Linked DNA regions of Homo sapiens. The protein of the gene in region 1 purifies or fractionates together with the protein of each later gene. This does not show direct contact. Each region holds a gene or a part of one and is shown in the gene's direction. Other genes may lie near its edges. The genes, in order: RERE, KDM6A, PHF20, KANSL3, YEATS2, ZNF608 and ZNF609.

Evidence for each region.
Region 2: the proteins of RERE (region 1) and KDM6A purify together in Homo sapiens (affinity purification with mass spectrometry, with the first as the bait; one large-scale study listed by BioGRID). This does not show direct contact.
Region 3: the proteins of RERE (region 1) and PHF20 purify together in Homo sapiens (affinity purification with mass spectrometry, with the first as the bait; one large-scale study listed by BioGRID). This does not show direct contact.
Region 4: the proteins of RERE (region 1) and KANSL3 purify together in Homo sapiens (affinity purification with mass spectrometry, with the first as the bait; one large-scale study listed by BioGRID). This does not show direct contact.
Region 5: the proteins of RERE (region 1) and YEATS2 purify together in Homo sapiens (affinity purification with mass spectrometry, with the first as the bait; one large-scale study listed by BioGRID). This does not show direct contact.
Region 6: the proteins of RERE (region 1) and ZNF608 purify together in Homo sapiens (affinity purification with mass spectrometry, with the first as the bait; one large-scale study listed by BioGRID). This does not show direct contact.
Region 7: the proteins of RERE (region 1) and ZNF609 purify together in Homo sapiens (affinity purification with mass spectrometry, with the first as the bait; one large-scale study listed by BioGRID). This does not show direct contact.

The regions. Positions count from the first base shown.
Region 1 is NC_000001.11:8,657,141-8,660,640, reverse strand, and holds part of RERE (arginine-glutamic acid dipeptide repeats protein), read left to right. Parts: intron 1-3,500. UniProt on the Homo sapiens protein: Plays a role as a transcriptional repressor during development. May play a role in the control of cell survival. Overexpression of RERE recruits BAX to the nucleus particularly to POD and triggers caspase-3 activation, leading to cell death.
Region 2 is NC_000023.11:45,107,188-45,110,233, forward strand, and holds part of KDM6A (lysine-specific demethylase 6A), read left to right. Parts: intron 1-222; coding exon 223-349; intron 350-2,891; coding exon 2,892-3,046. UniProt on the Homo sapiens protein: Histone demethylase that specifically demethylates 'Lys-27' of histone H3, thereby playing a central role in histone code. Demethylates trimethylated and dimethylated but not monomethylated H3 'Lys-27'.
Region 3 is NC_000020.11:35,946,515-35,950,014, forward strand, and holds part of PHF20 (PHD finger protein 20), read left to right. Parts: intron 1-970; coding exon 971-1,113; 3' UTR 1,114-3,500. UniProt on the Homo sapiens protein: Methyllysine-binding protein, component of the MOF histone acetyltransferase protein complex.
Region 4 is NC_000002.12:96,628,313-96,631,812, reverse strand, and holds part of KANSL3 (KAT8 regulatory NSL complex subunit 3), read left to right. Parts: intron 1-269; exon of another isoform or gene 270-330; coding exon 331-501; intron 502-3,500. UniProt on the Homo sapiens protein: Non-catalytic component of the NSL histone acetyltransferase complex, a multiprotein complex that mediates histone H4 acetylation at 'Lys-5'- and 'Lys-8' (H4K5ac and H4K8ac) at transcription start sites and promotes transcription initiation.
Region 5 is NC_000003.12:183,770,797-183,774,296, forward strand, and holds part of YEATS2 (YEATS domain-containing protein 2), read left to right. Parts: intron 1-1,508; coding exon 1,509-1,767; intron 1,768-2,836; coding exon 2,837-2,998; intron 2,999-3,500. UniProt on the Homo sapiens protein: Chromatin reader component of the ATAC complex, a complex with histone acetyltransferase activity on histones H3 and H4. YEATS2 specifically recognizes and binds histone H3 crotonylated at 'Lys-27' (H3K27cr).
Region 6 is NC_000005.10:124,638,640-124,642,139, reverse strand, and holds part of ZNF608 (zinc finger protein 608), read left to right. Parts: intron 1-734; coding exon 735-888; intron 889-2,925; coding exon 2,926-3,007; exon of another isoform or gene 3,008-3,012; intron 3,013-3,316; coding exon of another isoform or gene 3,317-3,320; exon of another isoform or gene 3,321-3,358; intron 3,359-3,500. UniProt on the Homo sapiens protein: Transcription factor, which represses ZNF609 transcription.
Region 7 is NC_000015.10:64,677,078-64,680,577, forward strand, and holds part of ZNF609 (zinc finger protein 609), read left to right. Parts: intron 1-1,038; coding exon 1,039-1,405; intron 1,406-3,107; coding exon 3,108-3,283; intron 3,284-3,500. UniProt on the Homo sapiens protein: Transcription factor, which activates RAG1, and possibly RAG2, transcription. Through the regulation of RAG1/2 expression, may regulate thymocyte maturation.

The DNA.
Region 1 (3,500 bases):
AGATCCTGGCAGCACAGGCAGCAGGAGTTCCTGTGCAAGCCAGATAGGGTTGAGCTCTGAGACAGCTGCACTGGAATCCTACTTCGTGCCCATTGGCTGCGTGGCCTTGTGCAGATGATCTCTTCTGAGTTCTGTAGACTGTAAAGCGAGGATGACAACTTCTGTCCAGTTCACTTCATGAGTTGGAAGAATCAAATGAGGGACTTGCTCTGTAAACCTCATGGTGCTATAATAAAGATGCTGTTGTTGTATCGTCTACTTTGTAGATCATTTCTAGCAAATTGAAGTGACAACTCTCCTTCTCAGTGCCATCTGGTTCCTCTCTGGGTCCCTTTCTTTATCTGTCACATCATTGGTATGTGTTGATCACTGTACACTAAGGCGCAGAAGAATTATAATTCATATGCTAAACATAGAGGAAAAAAATATATTCCCATTGAGCTGTATTTTAGAGCCAAATGTAAATGGTAATTGGATTGACTTTTGCTTAGATTATTAATGTTCATACTTATCTGAAAGTTGGTTATATAAATATGTCATTAATATATAAATGATATGGTATTAATTATTCATATAATTTAATATATTAATATAACATGCAGATTATGTAATATATAAATAGAGCCAACTTTCAGATAAATCAGAACATTGATTTTATAAATATACACATATACTGGATTTTGTTTTATAGACATCTTTATTGTTTCTTGAATTTTTAACTTTCTTGCTCACTTTTGGCAGAAACAACTCTATTTTCTTTGTAAATAGAAACAGTGTATGATTTTGTAGTGAGTAGTGTTGAATGTACAATTTGGACTTACTATTTTTTCTCTTTGAGTGCTGAAAAAATGTTTTCTACACAGTTTTCTGGAGCAGTTATCTTGTTAACCCCAGGGAGAATGATTTTTTTTCTTAAAGTTATCAGAAGTGTTTCTGTCTGAAACTGCAGTTGCAGTGGAGAGGTTTTCAGCCCAAGCTTTTCATTCTTTTTGGACTCCTAGTAGACACTGATGAGTTTTCAGGGTCAAAGAGGAACATTTTAACAATGGTGTTAGCTGATCGTTTTTTGTTTGTTTTTTATTTTGAGACGGAGTCTCGCTTTGTCTCCCAGGCTGGAGTGCCATGGCACAATCTTGGCTCATTGCAACCTCCGCTTCCTGGGTTCATACGATTCTCCTGCCTCAGCCTCCCGAGTAGGTGGGATTACAGGCACCCATCACTGCACCCAGCTAATTTTTGTATTTTTAGTAGAGACAGGGTTTCGCCATCTTGGCCAGGATGGCTTCGAACGCCTGACCTCAGGTGATCCGCCCGCTTCAGCCTCCCAAAGTGCTGGGATGACAGGCATGAGCCACCGCCCCTGGCCTGATAGTTTTCTTTCTTTCATGATTGGCTCGTTCATGCTCTAAACTTAAGACTTGTCGAGGAAGTAGTAGGTCTCTGTATTTTCAGTTGCTAGCACTAGTAGCCTACCAGGACTTGGGAGTTTATGACTATCTGTTTAGCAGACGGTTCATCTGGGCAAAACTTTTGTAGGCAGTGATAATTTTTCCTTTTCTTGAAATATGTTTAGAAAATGGAAATCCTGTTTGAAACAGCATGTTTCTTACATAGAAGGAAGTAATCTAGTTTTGTGCTACATGCGTTCCTTCTTCTAATGTAGCTTATGATGCATGATTGCTCCTTCATCACCTATCTTCCAAAGACTAAATACTTTCTATTTTGCTGAATGTCTAAGGATATTTGAGATGCTTATGAGGAGGTCTTTTCTGGTAAGAGGTTTGACCTAAGAGCGCTGCAGAGAATATATGGTAATTGTTATGGTTTTAGCATGACCAAAGAGAATTTTCTTTTTTCTTTCTTTCTTTCTTTCTTTTTTTTTTTTGAGATGGAGTCTCTCTCGTTGCCCAGGCTGGAGTGCAGTGGCACGATCTCAGCTCACTGCAACCTCTGCCACCTGGGTTCAAGCGGTTCTCCTAACTCAGCCTCCCGAGTAGCTGGGACTACAGGTGTCCACCACCACGCTCGGCTAATTTTTTGTATTTTTAGTAGAGATGGGGTTTCACCGTGTTAGCCAGGATGGTCTCGACCTCCTGACCTCGTGATCTGCCCACCTCGGCCTCCCAAAGTGCTGGGATTACAGGTATGAGCCACCATGCCTGGCTGACCAAAGAGAATTTTCTCTGCATCTGAAGCATGTAACTGCAAACTGATTTGTTTGTGGTTGTCAAGTAAAGAGGACCAATCTTTTGTTTGTTTATATGCACTGTTTCCTTTCTCACCCTAGTTGCATGAGAAACAGAAGCTTCTTAGATTGATCGGTTGCCTCCTTTTGTTGCATTTGAGCATTGAGAACAAGGACCATGAGTTTTCTCCTCCATTGTGGTTTTAGTTCTAACACTTGGCACATAGTATTTAGTAAAGATTTGTTGAATAAGTGAGATAGGGTATTGGGGAAGATCATAAGAAAAACAAAAGATAAATTATTTATTTATAAATTTATTGTTAGGTCTATTCCAAAACTGACTTAGAAAGACAAAATTTTTTCCTGCTATAAAATATCTGTAAGAACTGTGTTAGCTTGGAGTTTGGGATTCACTTTTCCCATTGCAGACGCTTAAAAACCTCAAGACTTTTCTTGTTGGGTTTCTTTTTGGGGAGTACTTTATTAGGGATACCATTTATAGTAGAAATCTGGAAGACTGTAAAAACCACTTAATATTCCCGAAAGATGGAAGCTTGTTTCTGGAAGCTGTTATGTTTTGTTAAGGCAGAGACAATACATTTTCTTTTCTTTATTGAGATGGAGTCTTTTGCCCAGACTGGAGTGCAGTGGTGTGATCTCGGCTCACTGTAACCTCTGCCTCCTAGGTTCAAGCGATTCTCCTGCCTCAGCCTCCCAAGTAGCTGGGACTATAGGCGTGTGCCACTGTGCCCAGCTACTTTTTGTGTGTTTAGTAGAGACAGAGTTTCACCACGTTGGCCAGGCTGGTCTCGAACTTCTGACCTCACGTGATCCCCCTGCCTTGGCCTCCCAAAGTGCTGTGATTACAGGTGTGAGCCACCACGCCTGGCCAGTAATACATCTTTAGAGAGATCATTTTCCTTGGAACATAACTGAAAATGGTAGGATGAAAAGATGTGTAAAATGTAACTGAAGGTGGAAAAATCTTGCTCTGAAGCTCTCACTTTCGTTTGAGTTAAATATTATTTTTATTCTTGAAGGAAGTTCTGGGAGTTTGTAGAAGTAGCCAGAAAATATCTTTAGAATATAGTGCTCTATGCGATATCCTGAGACTTTTTTTTCTTTTCTTCTTCTTTTTTTTTTTTTTTTGAGACGGAGTCTCTCGCTCTGTCGCCCAGGCTGAAGTGCAGTGGCACAATCTCGGCTCACTACAAGCTCCGTCTCCTGGGTTCACGCCATTCTCCTGCCTCAGACTCCTGAGTAGCCGGGACTACAGGCGCCCGCCACCACACCCAGCTAATTTTTGTTGTATTTT
Region 2 (3,046 bases), on another chromosome or scaffold:
TACTTTTCTCAACTTTAAATGTTTTAATATTGTCTTCATCAGGCCTGCTGAGCATTGTCATTTTAAAATCTGAGAATATTTGATAAATTGATGAAAGAAAAATTATGAAGTCATAGACATTAGAATCAAGTCTCTTGGCATTATTTCTAGTTGGTATATCTTTTATGCTAAAAATATTCAATATTCAGTTGCTGGTCACAAATAATTTCTCCCCCACAATAGGTATTGTCTTCTAAGAACTCTGAAGCAATGTCAGACATTGAGGGAAGCTCTCATTGCTGCAGGAAAAGAGATTATATGGCATGGGCGGACAAAAGAAGAACCAGCTCATTACTGTAGCATTTGTGAAGTAAGTAATTGTTTTTATCCACAGTTGTTTTATAAAGCCTCTTCCCTCTCCACTGTTGGTTTCTCTTTATTTTTAAAAAACTTTTTTATACTTTTATGTAATCCAGTTTATAGTAATTAACATTGGATTCAATTTTGTTGCTTAGCCATTATATTAAAATTCAGTGTGATAATAATGATATTTCACTGTGAATTAACCTTAAAAGTATCTACTGCAGAGTCATTTTTGTGGTAGATCTTCAACAGACAATAATCAGCAAATTTAGTCTGAGATTTTAAACTAAGAACAATCTAGATGTACACAGATGCCAATAAACTGGATGTTTGGTGTAACTCTAGGCAGATCGATTATCAGTCCTCTCTGGTGCAATTAACAATACATTTGTCAATCTTGTGTGGCCAAGGCTTGCAAGAGGTGCAGGAACAAAGATGTGGTGCCTCCTATGAAGGAGCTTAAATTCTACTTGGAGCAGACAGATTATAAACAACTAATTGTAATGTACATGAGACTATGATGAATGTGAAGTTGGACTTCCTGTTAATGATAACACTGAGGGGGAAAATGACCTAATTTTTTCTTCTAGTATTGGCATAAGAACTCACAAACGTATTAGCATTTGAGTCCATCCTTGGAAAAAAGAGTATGATATCAAGTAGACTAAAAAAGTGATGAGAATCGGAGGTAGACTGTCATGGGCTATAGGCACAAGAAGAGAACAGGGAAATGAAATGGTTTTAGAAAAGGTTGAATGTGTTCCGATTTGGCTGGAACACAGACTGTGCAAATTCCGCTCATAAGTCTAGGTGGCATTTAATTTATAGCACATCTTGAATGGTTTTAAGGAATTTGATATTCCAAGGTTATTGAAGCCATTAAAAGGTTTTGAGCAGGCAACTAAGGGTAAGTAAGATATGTGTTTCAGGGAGAAAAGTGGTTGGAAAGGACAGCGATATATAAGCTATTGCAGTGGTCTTAAGAGTTATGGGACTGTAAACTAGTTCAACCATTGTGGAAGTCAGTGTGGCGATTCCTCAGGGATCTAGAACTAGAAATACCATTTGACCCAGCCATCCCATTACTGGGTATATACCCAAATGACTATAAATCATGCTGCTATAAAGACACATGCACACGTATGTTTATTGCAGCATTATTCACAATAGCAAAGACTTGGAACCAACCCAAATGTCCAACAATGATAGACTGGATTAAGAAAATGTGGCACATATACACCATGGAATACTATGCAGCCATAAAAAATGATGAGTTCATGTCCTTTGTAGGGACATGGATGAAATTGGAAACCATCATTCTCAGTAAACTATCGCAAGAACAAAAAACCAAACACCGCACATTCTCACTCATAGGTGGGAATTGAACAGTGAGATCACATGGACACAGGAAGGGGAACATCACACTCTGGGGACTGTTGTGGGATGGGGGGAGGGGGGAGGGATAGCACTGGGAGATATACCTAATGCTAGATGATGAGTTAGTGGGTGCAGCGCACCACCATGGCACATGTATACATATGTAACTAACCTGCACAATGTGCACATGTACCCTAAAACTTAAAGTATAATTTAAAAAAATAATAATAATAATAAATAAATAAATAAATAAATAAATAAATAAAGTACCTGTAAAAAAAAAAAAGTTATTTTAAGGCCTAGACTAGAACCTGGCAATGGGAATATTAAAGAAGGGAAAGAATTCAAAAATATTTAGAGGGTAAAATCAGCGAGACACCTCATTAAATGGCAGAAGTGGAAGGACAAGTTGAAGAATGCTCACCAATTTTCTAGCTCAGGTCACTAGGTTTGTATTGCTGCTTGTTGACAGTAATGGATAACATGGTGAACTCTAGGATTGTAGTTAACTGTTAAAAGAAGACATGGGATCATAAGAGTTTTCTGTCATTGAAGAAATTTAAGGATAAGCCAAAGACAGGATGTTGATGGTCCATTTCAAACCTTGAAATTCTGTAATTCTAGCATCAACCTTTATTTGAAATGATAGAATCCATTGATTTTTTTTTTAAATGTCATATGGCCTGACCAAAGTGAGTCATTAGGAGATCAGATAGATTCCAGTTAGGTGTGTTGTTCCTTATCCTACCTGAACCCTAGCAACTCATCAATCTTTCTGTATAAGATAGAGGTATTATTTCTAAAATCATGCTGTACTCATGAATACATAAAAATGATCACTTATGTCTGATTGTATACTAATGTTTTAGATTTAAAAATAGGTTGACCTTTATCAAACTTTTGAACTGGGCTTTGCCAGTGGTTGTCATGAGTATGTCATTCCCTTTGATTATTCCCCTAAATATGCATTACTACCCATGTCTTTGGATTTGGTGCAAAATAAACCTGGTCTGTTAAAGATTCTCAAACACAGCCATGTTTTTCTTACCACCTACTCTTAACCAGAGATCACTGTCCACAATTTCATTCAAGTAGAATTCCATGATTATACTAAAGCAGTACAGTAAATACCACTATCTCTATTGAATACGTTTTTCTCTTGTATAAAACAGGTGGAGGTTTTTGATCTGCTTTTTGTCACTAATGAGAGTAATTCACGAAAGACCTACATAGTACATTGCCAAGATTGTGCACGAAAAACAAGCGGAAACTTGGAAAACTTTGTGGTGCTAGAACAGTACAAAATGGAGGACCTGATGCAAGTCTA
Region 3 (3,500 bases), on another chromosome or scaffold:
TCAGGAATTAATATGAAGCAAATCAGAGTTTATGATATACAAATAGACCTTTTCAAGACCCTATAGATTTTCATTTTTCTTGACAGGATGCTAAAACACCAGGCTCTCTGATTTTCAACATGGGAAAGCTTTTTATTTTTTATTTTATTTTATTTTATTTTATTTTATTTATTTTATTTTATTTTATTTTATTATTTTATTTATTTTATTTTTTGAGATGGAGTCTCGCTTTGTCGCCAGGCTGGAGTGCAGTGGCACGATCTCGGCTCACTGCGACCTCCGCCTCCCGGGTTCAAGCAATTCTCCTGCCTCAGCTTCCTGAGTAGCTGGGACTACAGACGGGCACCACCATGCCTGGCTAATTTTTGTATTTTTAGTGGAGATGGGGTTTCACCATGTTGGCCAGGATGGTCTTGATCTCTTGACCTTGTGATCTGCCCGCCTCGACCTCCCAAAGTGCTGGGATTATAGGCATGTGCCACCGCGCCCGGCTGGGAAAGCTTTTTAAAGAGTGAGTGGTAACACTCAGAAAGGTGCTTCCTTCCAAGACTTCTAGACTCTGGTAACAGTAGCCTCTGGCAATGTGTGGCTGTTTAACCAAAACTGAATAAAATTTAAAATTCAGTTCCTCAGTTGCATTAGCCATGTTTCCAGCGCTCAATAGCTGCATAAGGCTAGTGGCTACTGTATTGGATGACACAGACTTGGACCATTGATCATCGCAGAAAGTTCTTTTGGACTGTGCTGCTCTAAAGCATTTGTGTTTTGTCCTGGGAGTACCACTTTGTAGAGCAGGTGTTGACACAGTGCTGGCTGAAATGGCCCTTCCTCCCTTGCCCCATGGAGGCTGAAATGGCCCTTCCTCCCTTGCCCCATGTCTGATGGAATAAGGTGCTGAAATGCTTGCTGATGTTCTTGCAAATCAAGTGTTGGGAGTTCACTAGGTCTCATCTCTCTCTTCTGCCGACAGTGTTGGAGAGCTGGCTGGACTACACTGGGGAACTGGAGCCCCCTGAGCCGCTGGCCAGGCTTCCGCAGCTCAAGCATTGTATCAAGCAGCTGCTGATGGACCTGGGCAAGGTGCAGCAGATCGCCCTCTGCTGCTCAACATGAAACTGGGCACCCAAAACTCATGGGGGCACAATCCTGGGGCACCTGCAGGAGGAGCTTCGCATATTTAAATAAATAAACCTAGCATGCTGAATGCACGTGACACCGACTGACTTCAGGGATCTGGGCCAGGAGTGTGGTGGACATTGGACAAAGAGGCCATTTTGGCTGCGGGAGGACACTCTGATCTCGAAGCCTGCCATAAAGGTAGCAAATAGACTCTTGGGATTCCCCTCTTCTGTGCACATCGTTGAATGAAGAGAGTCTTTTTGCACAAACTTCACTTGAAATTGTGCCACTGATGATAAACGGAATGAGAGCCAAAAAAGTTTAGTTGGAGACAGTTGTAAATTCAATTTGGAGTTTATTTAATTGACTTTTCTATCACGTTGGGGCACATGCCAACTCCCTGGTTTCTTCCTGGCATGGTGTTTGGGCAGCAGGCATCATTTTCCTTTTCTAGCTTCATAGGAATATTGTGAGCTCACCATGCTGTGGAGGTTGGGAAAGAGCAGAGTCTTGGCTGCCCTGCTTTCTCCTTAGGACTCTTCACTTTTCTCACCACATCTCTTGCATGACTTCATGGTACTGGGGACAAGTTTGTATGCCTTCACCCCAGAGCTGGCTGGGTTATGGCTTTTGTAGCAGAGCCCATACAGCCTATGGAAGAACTAGAATCTCACTCACAGTAATAAGAATCTAGGAGGAATTCCAAACCGAAGCAGGCAGGGTCTGGAACCCAAAGGACAGCATTTTCTACCCACTTCTTAATATTGACAGCTTCCCCGTTCTATTTAATGTCCAAAAATGTTTCCCAAAATTTCAAACTCTTTCACTGTAAAGATTTGTTACAAAGAATGTGGTTTGGGGAATTACCTTATTTTATATTGTTGTAAACAAACTTCAAATTCTACATGTGCGACTTTTCTCCTTCCTGAAGGGTGTTTAGTAGTCAGCGTTTTCAGAATTGTTTTGTTACTATACTTTAACATTTTACATTTCCTGTTTGTATTATTTTGTGAGAGCAAGGTGATCATGCTGCTTAAGGTCCAGGTACAACCTATTTGTACCTTTTGAGACAATATTTGTGTTACTTTTGCAGGTTACGGTTCCACATGTAATTGCTATATTTTGTTTTGTTTTTCCTTACTAGGCAAAGTTAAAATGTTCCATGCTTTGAGGAGTGACCCATTTCACTACTTTGTTTTCTTATCACTAAAGGCAAAAATCAAAGCACAGTTGTCCATTAACACTTATAAGTTAATTATGGGTTTATGAGTCTGTAATGTTATATGCTGCAAACATTTACTATGTAAACGTGAAGTAGCCAATAATATCTCAATAGTAGTAACAGTATCTTTAGCGACCTTTGGAATAGTTAAGCACAGGTCATTGTGGACATGAATTCAGGCCTCTGTACTAAAATCTATTTCAGGGAATGTTCTGTCTAGTGATTTGCTCACCATTTGATATATAATGAATTATAGGACAAGTATAAGCTGATCTGCTATAGCTGTCCATCAGAGAGAATACACGTGGCTATAACATCTATAACAAAACGACGATTCCTCTACAAGAGGCTGTTTCTCACTGCTAACGTTGGTGTTTCTGGCGTGGGAAGAAATGCACAGGCGTGCATGGCATGCACGTTCAGACAGCTGCATTGTAAGAGTTCTGTCATGCAGTCTGAAAAGGGAAGAAACAGGATGGCTTTCTGTAGCCACACCTGTGAGGCGTGATGATTGTTGTATTATTAGATTACTGATTTTTCTTTTCTGAAAATACATTTGAGTTTTAATCACATCTGTGGAAGCTGTAACTTTTAAGGTAGTCAATTTCATGTCTTGTTCAACGATGTAAGCAGAAACTGAATTGCCCTAATTTTGCCAACTGGCCATTATTGGGATTATTGTTTAAATTTTTGGTAAAGGAAGTAATCTCCTTTCATTCATTGTGACTTTTGTTCTTAGGGAAGCAGAGAAGACTCCCCAAGTTCTTATAACCTCATTGTGCTTCCCTAATTTAAAGCCATGTTGAGGGGCTCCATTCCCAATTCCTGGGTCAAGGTGAATTAACCCTATGTTGGAGCACTGGAAACCGTTATTTGCAAACATTGCTGTTACCATTTAGAAATATGTGCACTATCAGCTGGGTGCAGTGGCTCACGTCTGTAATCCCAGCACTTTGGGAGGCCGAGGCAGGTGGATCACCTGAGGTCAGGAGTTCGAGACCAGCCTGGCCAACAGGGTGAAACCCCGTCTCTACTAAAAGTACAAAAATTAGCTGGGCGTGGTGGCGGACGCCTGTAATCTCAGCTACTTGGGAGGCTGAAGCAGGAGAGGTGCTGGAACCTGGGAGGCGGAGGTTGAAGTGAGCCGAGATTGCGCTAT
Region 4 (3,500 bases), on another chromosome or scaffold:
GGCTTCCCAAAGTGGTGGTATTACAGGTGTGAGCCAGTGCACCTGGCCCATATTTATCTTAAAAAAAAAATAGATGTTTATCATTTTTTATATAGACTCATTGAAAAAATGACTTTGTGTTCTTCCAGTACATACCATCATGTCTGAGAGGGCAGAGATCTAGACAAGTGTGGGAAAGATGACTTTGGATCAAAATTTTCTTGTGAATATAATGTGCTTATGCGTAATTTAAAGCTGACTGTATTAAAGATACATTTTTTGTCAACCAGATGATTGTTAAATACCTGTGAAGTATGTGTGGCCCGGTCCTATTTCCTCACCTGTTTACAGTGAATCAGACGTCCCAATAGATGTGGAGACGGTCACATCAACGCCTATGCCACTCTATGACAATCAGAAGGCACGCAGCGTGATGAATGAGTGTGAACGGCATGTCATCTTTGCCAGGACTGATGCAGATGCCCCTCCTCCACCAGAGGACTGGGAGGAGCATGTCAACAGGTAGGCTGCTCATCAGGAGGATGATCACTGCCCTGTAATTATTTTGTATCATCTTCATTGAAATAACACTTATTAGGACCTTATTTCATTTGCAGCAACACAAGTCAGAGTGTTCTCCAAAGTCTCACATTATAACTCTCAGTTCACCATGCTGTGTGTGAGCTCCTTGAGAGTAGGGCTTACATCTCAGCCATCTTTGCATACTTCACACTAGGACGTTGTCTGGCACACAGTAGGCATATAATGTTTGTTGAATAAATAAGTGAATTAAATTTGATACATATGACTAGCTCTGTAGTAGCTTCTGTTGTATAAGTTATGATATAGGGGTTACCCAAACTGCAAAAAAATGAAATGTACATTTGTAAGATATTGTGTTTAAATGGTTTATAACTAGGATGATGGAAGTTGTGAAGTCACATGAAAAGCTAACAGATGTTTGAGTGGCTTTTAAAAATAGATTTGCAGGCTATGGAGGGCACACTGAAGCCTATTTTCACGAGTATACTGGCTAGTTTTGTTCCCAAGCTTTCTACTGCCCCCAGGGGACTCAGCACTCCTCTCCTGGTTATTTGTCCCTGTTCATTTGGTAAACATTTACCTAATTACATAACAGCTTTTTGGGGATATTATTTACATACCATACAATTCAGCTATTTAATATGTACAGTCATTGGTTTTTAGTATAGTCAGAGTTGTATATTCATCACCACTATCAATTTGATAAACATTTTCATCATCCTAAAAAGAAACCTCTTACCCATAAACAGTTACTTCCCGTTTCCTCCCAGCTTCTCTGGTCCCTAGGAAGCACTAATTGACTTTTGTCTTTATAGATTTGCCTATTCTGGACATTTCATATAAATGGAATCATGCAATATGTGGTCTTTTCCTACTGGCTTCTTTCACCCAGCATGATGTTTTCAAGGTTTATCCATGTGGTTGCGTGTATCAGCACTTCATGCTTTTTATTGCCAAATGACATTACATTGTATGGATAGCCCACATTTTATTTATTCATTAATCAGTTGATAGATATTTAGATTGTTTTCATTTTTTGGCAATTGTGAATAATGCTATTATGAACATTTGCATACAAGTTTTTGTGTGGATCTAAGTTTTTAATTCTCTTAGTTATATACCTGGGAGTGGACTTGTTGGGTCATATGATAACTCTGTATTTAACCTTTGAGGAATTGCCAGACTGTTTTCCAAAGTGGCTGTACCATTTTACATTCCTACCAGCAGTGTATGAGAGTTCTAGTTTCTCCATATCCTTGCCAACACTTACTGATTTTCTTCTTTTTTAAAAAAATTATAACCATTCTACTGCGTGTAAAGTGGCATCTCATTGTGGTTTCAACTTATATTTTGTTGATGGCTTTTTGTCTGTGTATCCATATATCTACTATATATATAAGGAAATGTTACTTCTTATATCAGGAGTTGGTAGGTGGTAACTTTCCATAATTTTGGAGAACCCTTATTTTATAATAGAGAGAAAGAGGGGTAGAAAGTTTGAGGTGATTGACATGACTTCTGAAGCTGGTTGGAAGTTGGGAATGAGATTGAACAGGTGTGCTTGTGTGATCAAAACAGCAGCTGTTGAGGGAGGAGCAGTTCTGCACCTTGGTTGAAAAAGCTTGTGAAGAAGTTGGTTGGGGTCTTGCATTGGAATTAATTTAGTGCCTTAAGAAGCTCTTTTCTCACGCCTGTAATCCCAGTACTTTGGGAGGTTGAGGCGGGTGGATCACCTGAGGTCGGGAGTTCAAGACCAGCCTGACCAACATGGAGAAACTCTGTCTCTGCTAAAAATACAAAATTAGCTGGGTGTGGTGGCGCATGCCTGTAATCCCAGCTACTCGGGAGGCTGAGGCAGGAGAATCACTTGAACCTGGGAGGCGGAGGTTGTGGTGAGCCGAGATCGTGCCATTGCACTCCAGTCTGGGCACCAAGAGTGAAACACCATCTCAAAAAAAGAAAAAAAAGCTCTTTTGAGCTTCAGATAAAGAAGAAAACTGCTACGAATGAAGATCAACTACTGGAATATTGCTAGAGTCAGTATATTCAGCAAAAGGATTTATCACTATTTTTACAGTTAATAATAAAAAATAACGACGATGGTAATAACAAAAAGGAGCTACCGTTTGTTGAGTGCTTTCTAGGTGCCAGACATTGTATCAATGTCTCTTCAAATGCATTGTCTCTTAATCCTCCCAATGACTCTTGGAGGTATATCCCCCCTTCATCTCTGCTCAACAGGATGAAGAAACTGAGCTCAGGGTGTTTAAGAAACCTTAATTAGGAAGTGATGGAGAAGGATTTTGTTCAAACCAAGCAGCCTGACTCCAGAACCCAGTGTTCTCAACTACCATACCCTCTGCCTTAATTAAGGGCAGTAAGAAGAGATTAAGACCAGTTAGTGGTGGCTGAACAAGGTGGCCTGGTATGGTTATGTATCCCTTTGTGGTATTTTCTACTACCTTGTCCTTTGCAATTTCAGAAAGTACATAGGAGAACTGTGTGATTTTTTTTTTTTTTGTCAGTTTATCCATGGTTATGATTAAGAGGTTTTTGTGGACAATTCATACTTATCAAAGTCATTAGAGACTTAATAATACTATAAATACCAGTTTGTTTCTTTTTTCTTTTTTTTGAGACAGGGTCTCACTCTGTCACCCAGACTGCAGTGCAGTGGCACGATCTCAGCTCACTACAAGCCTTGACCTCCAGGACTCAGGTGATTCTCCCGGGTGGGAACCTTAACCTCCCAAGTAGCTGGGACTACAGGAGTACGTCACCATTTCTTAATTTTTGTAGTTTTTGTAGAGATTGGGTTTCACCATGTTGCCTAGGCTGGTCTCAAACTCCTGGCTCAAGTGGTCTGCCCACCTTTGCCTCCCAAAGTGCTAGGATTATAGGTGTGAGCCACTGCACTTGGCTGAGTTTCTTAATTTATAAGGAGAGATATAACTGCAAAGCATAAGAGACACTGGGGT
Region 5 (3,500 bases), on another chromosome or scaffold:
TTTCCAGTCTGTTTACACTAATATATCACTAATATATATAATTCTAGTTCATTTATTTTTAGTATGACCTTTCGTTGTCTGTTTTATGCCACAGTTTGTCCATTCCTCTATCTGTAGACGTTAAGAATGTTGTTGCATGCTGCAGACATTAAGGTTGCTAACAGTTTTTGGTAAAAATAATGCTATGTTGGGCATTGTTGTATATGTTCCCTTGAACGCATGTATGTTTCTCTAGGATATATTCCTAAAAACAATTCCTACTATACGGGGGTATGTGAATTTTCAGTTTTAGCAGATGGGCCAGTGCCTCTCTGGAATGGCTGTCCAAATTTATCTTCCTACCAACAGTGAGCACAAATTCCTATTTTCCCCACAGCCTCTAGTAACTTCTTGGTTTTAAACTCTTTTTCCCCCAATCTGATGGGTGAACAGCACTTCCTATTTTGTCTTTTTTGCCTTAAGAAGGTAGATCATTTGCATTTCTTCCAACCTTGTGGAAGTCTGTTCATCTAGTTTCTGGTGAGAAGTTCTTTTTATGAAATAAGGTGCTGGGAGTGGGAAACACTGCTCCAGTTTGCCATTCATTCAGTGTTTAATTTAACATCCTACTGTTGACTTTGTTTTAAAAACACTCCTGAGTATTTTCTTAAAAGAATTCATTTTACTTTTGGAACTAGATACTTCTAATTTTCATTATTTGGGTACTGGGGTCTTTTTTTTTTTTAATAGTTAAATATTATTCTTGCCTTTTTTTTTTTTTTTTTTTTTTCTTTTCTTAGGGTCTTGCTCTGTCACCCAGGCTGGAGGGCAGTGGTGTGATCACGGCTCAGTGCAGCCTTGAACTCCTAGGCTCAAGGGATCCTCCCCTGCCTCAGCCTCCTGAATAGCTGGGACTACAGATGTGTGCCACTGTACTGGCTAATTTTTTTTTTTTTTTTTTTTTTTTTTTAGACAGAGTCTCACTCTGTCACCCAGGCTGGAGTGCAGTGGCATGATCTTGGCTCACTGCAACCTCCACATCCTAGGTTCAGGGGATTCTCCTACCTCAGCCTCCAGAGTAGCTGGGACTACAGGTGTGTGCCACCATGCCCAGCTAATTTTTGTATTTTTAGTAGAGATTGGATTTCACCATGTTGGCCAGGCTGGTCTCGAACTCCTGACCACAAATGCTCCTCCTGCCTTGGCCTCCCAAAGTGCTGGGATTACAGGCATGAGCCACCACGCCCGGCCAAACTTTTTTCTTTATACTTCTGAATTTCCCAAATTTTCTATTAAAGTAAATTATAAAAAGTAGCTGAGGCAAGACAACAATTGTTAAGCTTCTATTATTGTAATACCCAAGTGTAAGAAATACAGTTGCCGTTCACACCTGTGTAGGTAGCTTTCCTAGATGACTGAATTAGGCTGCATGTATTATGTGCAGGCCTTTGTTTTGCTCTCTGCCAAAACGGTGACTGCTGTTCTAAGAGCTCTCGAAGCACCGTTGGACTCTGCTCTGTTTTGAACAGGTTGTCGGGGTACCAGTTGGGTCTGCTTTACCTTCAACAGTGAAGCAGGCTGTGGCGATCAGTGGTGGCCAGATCCTGGTAGCCAAGGCCAGCTCTTCTGTCTCCAAAGCAGTTGGGCCAAAGCAAGTTGTAACCCAAGGAGTTGCCAAAGCAATTGTGAGTGGAGGTGGAGGAACCATTGTTGCTCAGCCAGTGCAGACCTTAACCAAGGCCCAGGTTACTGCCGCTGGTCCTCAGAAGAGTGGATCCCAGGGTTCAGGTAAAACGGATCATCACTGGGAGCCCTTTCAGCAGAAGCTCTGTCCAAAATTTCCTTTGCTAGTGATTTTATTTGCTATTTGATCTGGTCTAGGAAAGCCTAGTTAGGTTGATGCTGTAAGAAGTGTATTGAAATGTTTGTTCTTTTTTATGGGACATTTTACATAAAGGTCTGTGAGTATTTAGCTTTAAATTTACACACACACACACACACACCCACATACACACACACACACGAACAAATCATTTCTCAGTACTGTGGGGGATTGGTTCCAGGACCCCCTGCTGCAGATAGCAAAATCCACAGATGCTAATCCACAGTCCCCTGTGTAAAATGCTGTACTGTTTACGTATAACCTATGTACATCCTCTGATGTACTTTACTTTATATCATCTCTAGGTTATCTTAATACCTAATAACAATGTAAATAACAATGTAATAACAATGTATATGCTATGTAAATAGTTGTTACACTGTGTTGTTTAAGGAATAATGACAAGAAAAAAGTCTGTACATGTTCAGTACAGATGTACTCATCCTTTTGTCTGCCAAATATATGGATATTTTTTATCTGAGGTAGGTTACATCCATGGATGTGAAATCCACAGATACAGAGGGCCAATGGTACTTGCCAGTTAGGAGCACACATTTGCCCTAACTTTGACTTTAAACAAATGGGGGAAAATATGTAATCCTCCATAGACAGGGTGATTATTTCATTAATCGTCCAAACCACAGTACTTTGGAGAGTAAAAAGAGTCATTATTAATAATTATAGTGGGACAGGTGTAACCTAGAACTGTTCTGGGCAGAACCAGGACGTACGATCATCCTATTATATACAGATATAAAGAGCCTCTGGCAGGCTCTTCTGGTCTATAAATTATTTTTTAATTAGCAAGATATTTAAGAATATCAGTCTTTAAAGCATTGTGCATCTGGGAAACAAACTTTGAATTTATTGCTTGTTAGTGTTCTAAAATAAGAATTTATTGCCTTGTATTTTAATTTTAGAGTGTTGCCCTTAGTTTCAATTTATCTTACAATTTTTTCTCCTTTACCATTTTAGTAATGGCAACGTTGCAGCTACCAGCCACTAATTTGGCCAACTTGGCAAATTTGCCTCCTGGCACTAAACTCTACCTAACTACAAACAGCAAGAACCCTTCAGGAAAAGGAAAACTGCTGCTGATCCCTCAAGGAGCCATCCTGCGAGCTACGAACAATGCTAGTTAGTGAAACCATTGGGTTGAATCATTTGGTTCTTGGTTCTCTATGTGTGTTCATCTTGTCCATCTGAGGGCAGTTCTTACCTGTTTCAGGAAGCATTTCTGTAACTCTGTTGGGTGGTGTAATGGTAGCATTTGCTCAGATGGATTTAACACATACGATAATTTAACTAGAAGTGGGTTTGCTCCTCAGCGTTTGCAATCAGAGATGAATCACTCTGGAGAGAGATGGCTGGTGAGGCTGTTGGGAGAAAGCTGTCTACATGAACCATGAATGAAGTGGTGTCTGAAAATTATCTGGTGATACCTGAGGGAAGATCCATCTACTTATAGAAGCTGGAAGTCTGTTTTTGGGGATAGGTTGGCATAGGATTGGAATCGAGTGTGTCTGTTTGACTTCATTTAGATCAGGGGTCCCCAACCCCTGGGCCGCACAGCAGAAGTTGAGCATGGACGAAGAAGCATTACTGCCTGAGCTCCGCCTCCTGTCAGATCAGCAGTGGC
Region 6 (3,500 bases), on another chromosome or scaffold:
TACCAGAAACTCTATAGAGAAACCAGAAAAGGGGATTTCTGAATCTTTTTCTGAGTCCTCCTTCTTAGTACAAGGATTTCTTTTAAGTGAGAAGTATAACTTTAGTTAAAGGGTGGTTAGGCTGTAAAGGTAGAAAGTCATAGGAAATGAACCATCCTTACCCCAAACTATGGTTTGGGAGGATGGGGCCTTCTCTTTGAGAGTTCAAAAATTGAGAGATTCAAAATGTGGGTGTAGGACAGTGATTTCTTGTGCTTTATATTGGCATATAACTTTAGAGCATGTTTTTTCAGTAGAACAAAATGTATACAGACACGTTTAAAACTGTGAGATATGTTCTCTCCACAAAATACAAGTGTAATTAGAAAACTTGACCTTAAAGATATCTCCAAAACTACTTATTTTGTAAAAGTTGTTTATGGGAAGCAATTGGGTAAATTCTTAACCTGCAATTATGAATGAATATAGAGAGAAATCCTCTTATTTCCGTCATTTCAGGAAAACATTGGTGTCACTTGGTTTACTTTGGGTGGAGTAGTTCTTTTGTGTTGGCTTAATTCCAACTGAAACTAATGCATGTTTTTTGAAATTCTCTTTAGTTACTAAAGAATTGTATCTTTATATTTACTTTTTAATCATTAACACAATATTGTCGAAGGGACAAAGGTGGTTTAGTACTCTTAAAAGTTGATTTTCAGAGCATGAAGGGGGAAAATTTCTCTTTTCTGTTGCAGCCTGTGGAAAAGGCTACAGCTGAGCGGGAACGGGAGGCAGAAAGGGAAAGGGATCGCCACTCCCCCTTCGGCCAGCGGCACCTGCACACGCACCACCACACCCACGTTGGCATGGGTTACCCGCTAATCCCGGGTCAATATGACCCTTTTCAAGGTCAGCAGCTCTATCATTACTGTGTCTTTGTCCATTCTGCTTTGGAAAACAGTTGCTAAAATTGCATTTCACATCTTAAAAATATTGAGCTTTGAGTTCACATTAGCTCTCAGGAGGGTTTTTAACACTTATTTTCTAGTGACACAGCTAAGGCTATTCCCACATCTTTGTATTCTATTGAGACATGAAATGGCTACCACTTAATAATTGTCACCAGTTGATGTTATCGGCAGCTTACTGTTATCTCACAGACTGAGGGCGGTGGCCAGTGTCTGGGGCACTGAATATAACAATCAGAAGATCAGATATCTACTTCAGGAAAATTGTAGAAAAAGGGAGGGATGGTGGGAAGCTTTGGTGAAATTACTTGTTCTGATTTCTGCATGCCTTTTAAGTTGCTCTTTTCCCATGGAAATCATGGGAGTAATGTGATCAGGTTTAACACTTTTATAACCTCATTCGAGGGTTCTTCACAGCCCTTCACTGCTGCGACTTCACTAAATGGGAGAATTGAGAAAGAGAAACATGTTTTAAGCCATAGGATTGATATGAGGGAATCTTCACCTTGTAGTTCATTAGTTGAGCATGTATTATTTGTCCCATCTTTGTCATCTCATAGTAGGTGGGTGGTGGCACCATCTTTACAACTTGCTAGAATACCACAGATTGCATGGCTTTAAACAACAGGAATTTATTTTCTCACAGTTCTGGAGGCTGGAAGTTCAAGATCAGGGTGCCAGTACAGCCAGCGTCTGCTCAGGCCTCTCTTCCTGGCTTGTGTGCAGCTGCTGTCTTGCTGTGCGCTCATATGACCTCTTCTTTGTGCATGAGCTGGTGGGTGGGGAAGGGGCAGGGGGGAGCCCTCGTGTGCTTTCTTATAAGGACACTAATCATGCCCTATTAGGGTCCCACCCATATGACCTGATTTAACCTTAATTACCTCCTTATAAGCCCCATCTCCAAATCTAATCACATTGTGGATTAGAGCTTCAACATATTTTGAGGAGACATAATTTAGTCTATTGCACTTGCCAAGTTGCCTCTTATGCTACTGTGTGAATAGAAAGTAAGATAATATGTTTGAAGGTGTTTCCAAAACTGGGAAGTGATATACAAATGTGAAGGGGTCATTTTTATTTATTCAGGTCTTTTTAGTTGATGTCATCTAGTAGTGTTAAAAGAGAGCTTTCCTATTTCTTAAACAATTTGTATTGAGTGTAATAAGAACTTGGAAGAGAAAGAGGTTTTATTTCTAGTCTAACACATTATATCTATATATAAATAAAGTATATATGAGAAGAAAACAATTGTCTCTTTTAAGATAATATTATTGTTATTGTACTGTCTTAAGTTACCTCTGGGAAAAGAAAATATATCCAAATAAAAGACCTAGAAGGAGACAGTAATCTTCCCTAGGTTTGCATTTGTTTACTCTATTTTTCCCCAGGACTGTCTTCTATAGAATTTAAAAGAATTCTCTGTTAGGCAACATCATGCCATTTGGAGCTATTACAGTCTCTGACTGCTACCTTTGTCTTGCAGGGTGAAAGTTAAGAGCATTTCTAAGTTTGATTTACTGATTCTGTGTATCTTATGGGATGCATTGTGTTCAGTCACTGGGGAAAATGTTAAAGTGATAACAATTATTATGAAAGTATTGTATTCTAGGCAAATAGCATGCCGCTTCTGTAATTCACTGTGACTTTTGATTCCTGTTGTTACCTGGTATCTGTTATTTCTCCTGAGCTTCCTATTCAGGGAATGCATGCAAACCATTTAGCACCATGCAGAGCCGGAGAGATGGAATGCTGTATCTCCTTCGAATAGCTATTAAGAAAACTGCAGAGTATTCAAGAAAGGATAGATAGCAGATAGACCAAATGGTTTGTACTGTGTCCTTGCTGCATGAAACAGTTCATGTGTGTGTTTAGGAGAGGACACCATGCTGCTACTAGGTCTGCGGCCCTTCTCCACTGGGCCTGTATCTACTCTTATCCTTCTAAAGATCACAGACACTCTACATTTTTTCCCCATTAGGCTTGACCTCTGCTGCCCTTGTTGCCTCTCAGCAGGTGGCTGCCCAGGCATCTGCATCTGGAATGTTTCCTGGACAAAGAAGGTAAATATCCTCTACATTTTTAATTAGTTGTAGATAGAAATATCTTAATGGTTGGGAGGAAGCAAGTACAGGATTTTTAGACCAAAAACTTAACTCCTTGGGTTTTATATCATTGTAATGAATGTGTTTATTATGCCAATATAAGTTGCTTCACATGCAACTTAAATTCCATGAACCTCATTCTGTAAGGGTTACATAGATTAGTAATTAACTGATTAGTTTTTTAGACAGTTGAAATTTTCTTGGGTTATCCTTACGGCATTTCTAAAATAATTCACCATGACTCCCTTTGTTTTATTATGTTTAAAGATAAAGTCGCAAATGGAGACATTTATTTTCATAATGCTAAAGGTAATGTTTGTTCTTTGATATTTTAAATTATTCCCTAAGTTTTATGAAGGAAAATGATTTAAAGGAATTAAATTATTAATATTATAAAATTAATATTTTTCACAATGTATATCATTACTTTATGTTTATTCACTTTCTCTGG
Region 7 (3,500 bases), on another chromosome or scaffold:
ATAGAGACCAGAGTCCCTCTGTGTTGCCCAGGCTGGAATGCAATGATGCAGTCATAGCTCACTGCAATTTCCAACTCCTAGGCTCAAGCAGTCCTCCTGCCTCAGCCTCCCAATTAACCAGGACTACAGATGCATGCCACCACACCCAGATGATGTTTTAATTTTTTGTAGAGAGGGGTCTCACTATGTTGCCCAGGCTGGTCTTGAACTCCTGGCCTCAAGCAATCCTCGCGCCTCAGCCTCCCAAAGCACAGGGATTCATATTAATGTTTTTTAAAAAGCACTTTTATATCCATAGCAGGTGTTTTTTCCATTTGACAGGAAAGGCCCAGACAAGTTAGCTTAATTTGTCTGGGGTTACTTGAGACCTCACTAGCAGAGCCAGGATTAGAACCCAGGTATCTCGATTCCTTGTCCGTGTTTCCTCCACTGTTTGGTTCCTATGAAATGAGTTATTGATGGTCTCTCTATTTTTTAGAGTAGGTCCAAAGTATACTCAGTTACTGAGTTTCTTTAACAAGGATTTTATAGGTTGAGTTAGAACTAGGAACTTGGAATCTCATATCTTGCTCTGCTCATGAGACTTAGAATGTCTTCCCTTCCCTCTTGGTATAATAGTTATGCTTCCCTCCCTCCTCTGATCTGAGTGTCACTTATAAGCTTTCCAGTCCCTGAGCGTGCTCTGAAAAAGTGAAACAATCTAAACATATTGGAAGGGGCAGCCTCTCCTATTTCAGTCGTTTTCCCAGAATGCTTGTTCTTACCTAGAAAACATCCACTGATGCATGGATGGATTTTCCTTTTCTCCCCCTGCCCCATCTTGTTCCCTGTGGGTGGGTGCAGAGGTGGGGGCGGGGGCTTTTTAACCAAAAGGGAGCAGAGTTGGATTATAAACAAGATCAGTAGAGGCCAAAATCCTACTCTGCCCCAGGTGTCTAGTACTAATTATCTGCTCTGGTGGTTCTACTGGGACCTTGGGCTTGAAGTATATCTGTCTTATCTGTACAACACCCAGTCGTTGTTCTGTGATTGTTGTAGGAGGCAGAGCCCCGGATGTGGACATATGTTTATCCTGCCAAGTACTCAGACATCAAGTCAGAGGATGAGCGGTGGAAGGAGGAGCGGGACCGCAAATTGAAGGAGGAAAGGAGTCGGAGTAAGGACTCTGTCCCCAAGGAAGATGGGAAGGAAAGCACAAGTAGTGACTGCAAGCTGCCCACGTCAGAGGAGTCTCGCCTTGGGAGCAAGGAGCCCCGGCCAAGTGTCCATGTGCCTGTGTCCTCCCCACTTACCCAGCACCAGTCCTACATCCCCTACATGCACGGCTATTCCTACAGTCAGTCCTACGACCCCAACCACCCCAGCTACCGGAGCATGCCTGCTGTGATGATGCAGAACTACCCAGGTACAGCACCAAGTGCCAGCACTATTCCATTCACTGGAAGGGGGAATGAAGCACAGATTTCACATCCAGAGTTTTCTTGCTCAGCCCCAAGGCATATTGAGGCTCGCTTAGATGACGGACCTTTTTTCACTGAGTCATTCTGTGAGGTGGCCACCATAACCCATAGTTCCTTGAATGACCCATAATGATAGTCTGTGTGACTACCTCTCTCTCCCTTGCTCCAGCTCAAGGATTGTCTCTGTAGTCAGTTTTCATTGCTAACTAAAGGTAAAACTCCTTCTCTGTCACTGCTGTCTCCCCTCAGCTGGAATTTGTAAACCATATACTCCACGTTTTGCAGTGTGCTAGGCACTGTGGGAGGTACAAAAGAAGTAGAGCCATTGAGTTCCTTCCACTCCCGGAGCTTACAGCTTAATCATAGTGGAGAGACACAAAGAACAAATAAAATGCAAACCATAACAATGCATGGATTCAGTTGCCAGATCATGTTCACCTGTCAAGTAAGAAGAGCCATCTGAAGTCAGACTGGGGGGAGGTCCTGCTAGATTCAGCTTGGAAAAGACAAGCTCTTTATAGTGTTTAAATGTTTTTTGTTTGTTTGTTTTTTGAGACGGAATTTCACTCTTGTTGCACAGGCTAGAGTGCAGTGGCGTGATCTCGGCTCACCACAGCCTCCACCTCCTGGGTTCAAACGATTCTCCTGCCTCAGCTTCCCAAGTAGCTAGGATTACAGGCATGTGCCACCACTCCTGGCTAATTTTGTATTTTTAGTAGAGACGGTGTTCTTCCGTGTTGGTCAGGCTGGTCTTGAACTCCCGACCTCAGGTGATCCGGCTGCCTTGGCCTCCCAAAGTGCTGAGATACAGGCATGAGCCACCGCTCCGGCCTTAAATGTTTTTTAACTTGTTAGAAGAAAATGCTCTTATTTAACTCTACTCGTTTTGTTGCCCAAAGAACCATGTGGGGTGCTTCTGGGGTGGAAGGGCACTGCTTTAGCCTCACTCCTTAGAGCCTCCAGCTTCCTACAGCAGCCTAAATAGTCTCAACATTCTGGTGACATTATTATAAAGCACACTCTAAATAGAAATAAGCTTTTCAAACAGAAATAGGAAATTTCTTACCCTTGAGGTGTTCCTTTATCCCTGTCACTCACACCCATCAATATAAAAATCATAGTTGCATTTGTTGAGTGCTCGCCCTGAGCCAGGCGCTGTCCTCTGAGATTTATAGACATTATCTTTTTTAATCCTCCCTATCACCTTAAGTAATAAGTATTGATATCTTCATTTTTGATGATGAAGAAACTGAAGCTCAAAACAGTTATTTATTTGCTCAAGGTTACCAAGCTAGTAAGTCTCAGAGTAAGGTTTTGAGCCCAAGGCTCTGACTCCAGATAAGTGTGATCTTTCCACTTTATCATATCACTTCTCCAAGATGAATCTGAGACCAGTTCAAAGAACAGTATCAGATCTATGGAAGTTGGAAGCAGGAAACAGGGCCATGTTCCTAATATCCCTTAGCTAATTTTTCCTGTAGAGCTCAGTAAAGAAAGGTCAAGCCAACAGTCTCAGCCAAAGACACTATGTTAGAAAATACCTCAGCCTGTGCCTAGGAAAGCTGATGCCCACCCAATCAAGCTCACTAAAGCAGAGTTTCCTCTACCTCTCCCATCTCTTTGACTGTTTGATTTCTCCTTCCACAGGTTCCTACCTGCCTTCCAGCTACTCTTTTTCCCCATATGGCAGCAAGGTCTCAGGTGGTGAAGATGCTGACAAGGCACGAGCCAGCCCCAGTGTGACTTGTAAATCCAGCTCAGAGTCCAAAGCCCTGGACATCTTGCAGCAGCATGCCAGTCACTACAAGAGCAAGTCTCCCACGGTAAGAAAAGTACAGTGATGCTGGCTGTTACCCAAAGACTAGTAAGGCCAGATCCAGGGTCTGGGAGAAGGTGGGCAAGTTCAGGTCCTGACCACAGTGCAGCTTGGCTGACTTGACACTGGCAGCCCCCAGGGCATCTTCTTTATTCTTAGGTATCTTGCACTTTTAGGGGTCATAAGGTGGCACCCTGGGCATCTCACTTGTGTGTGTGTGTGTG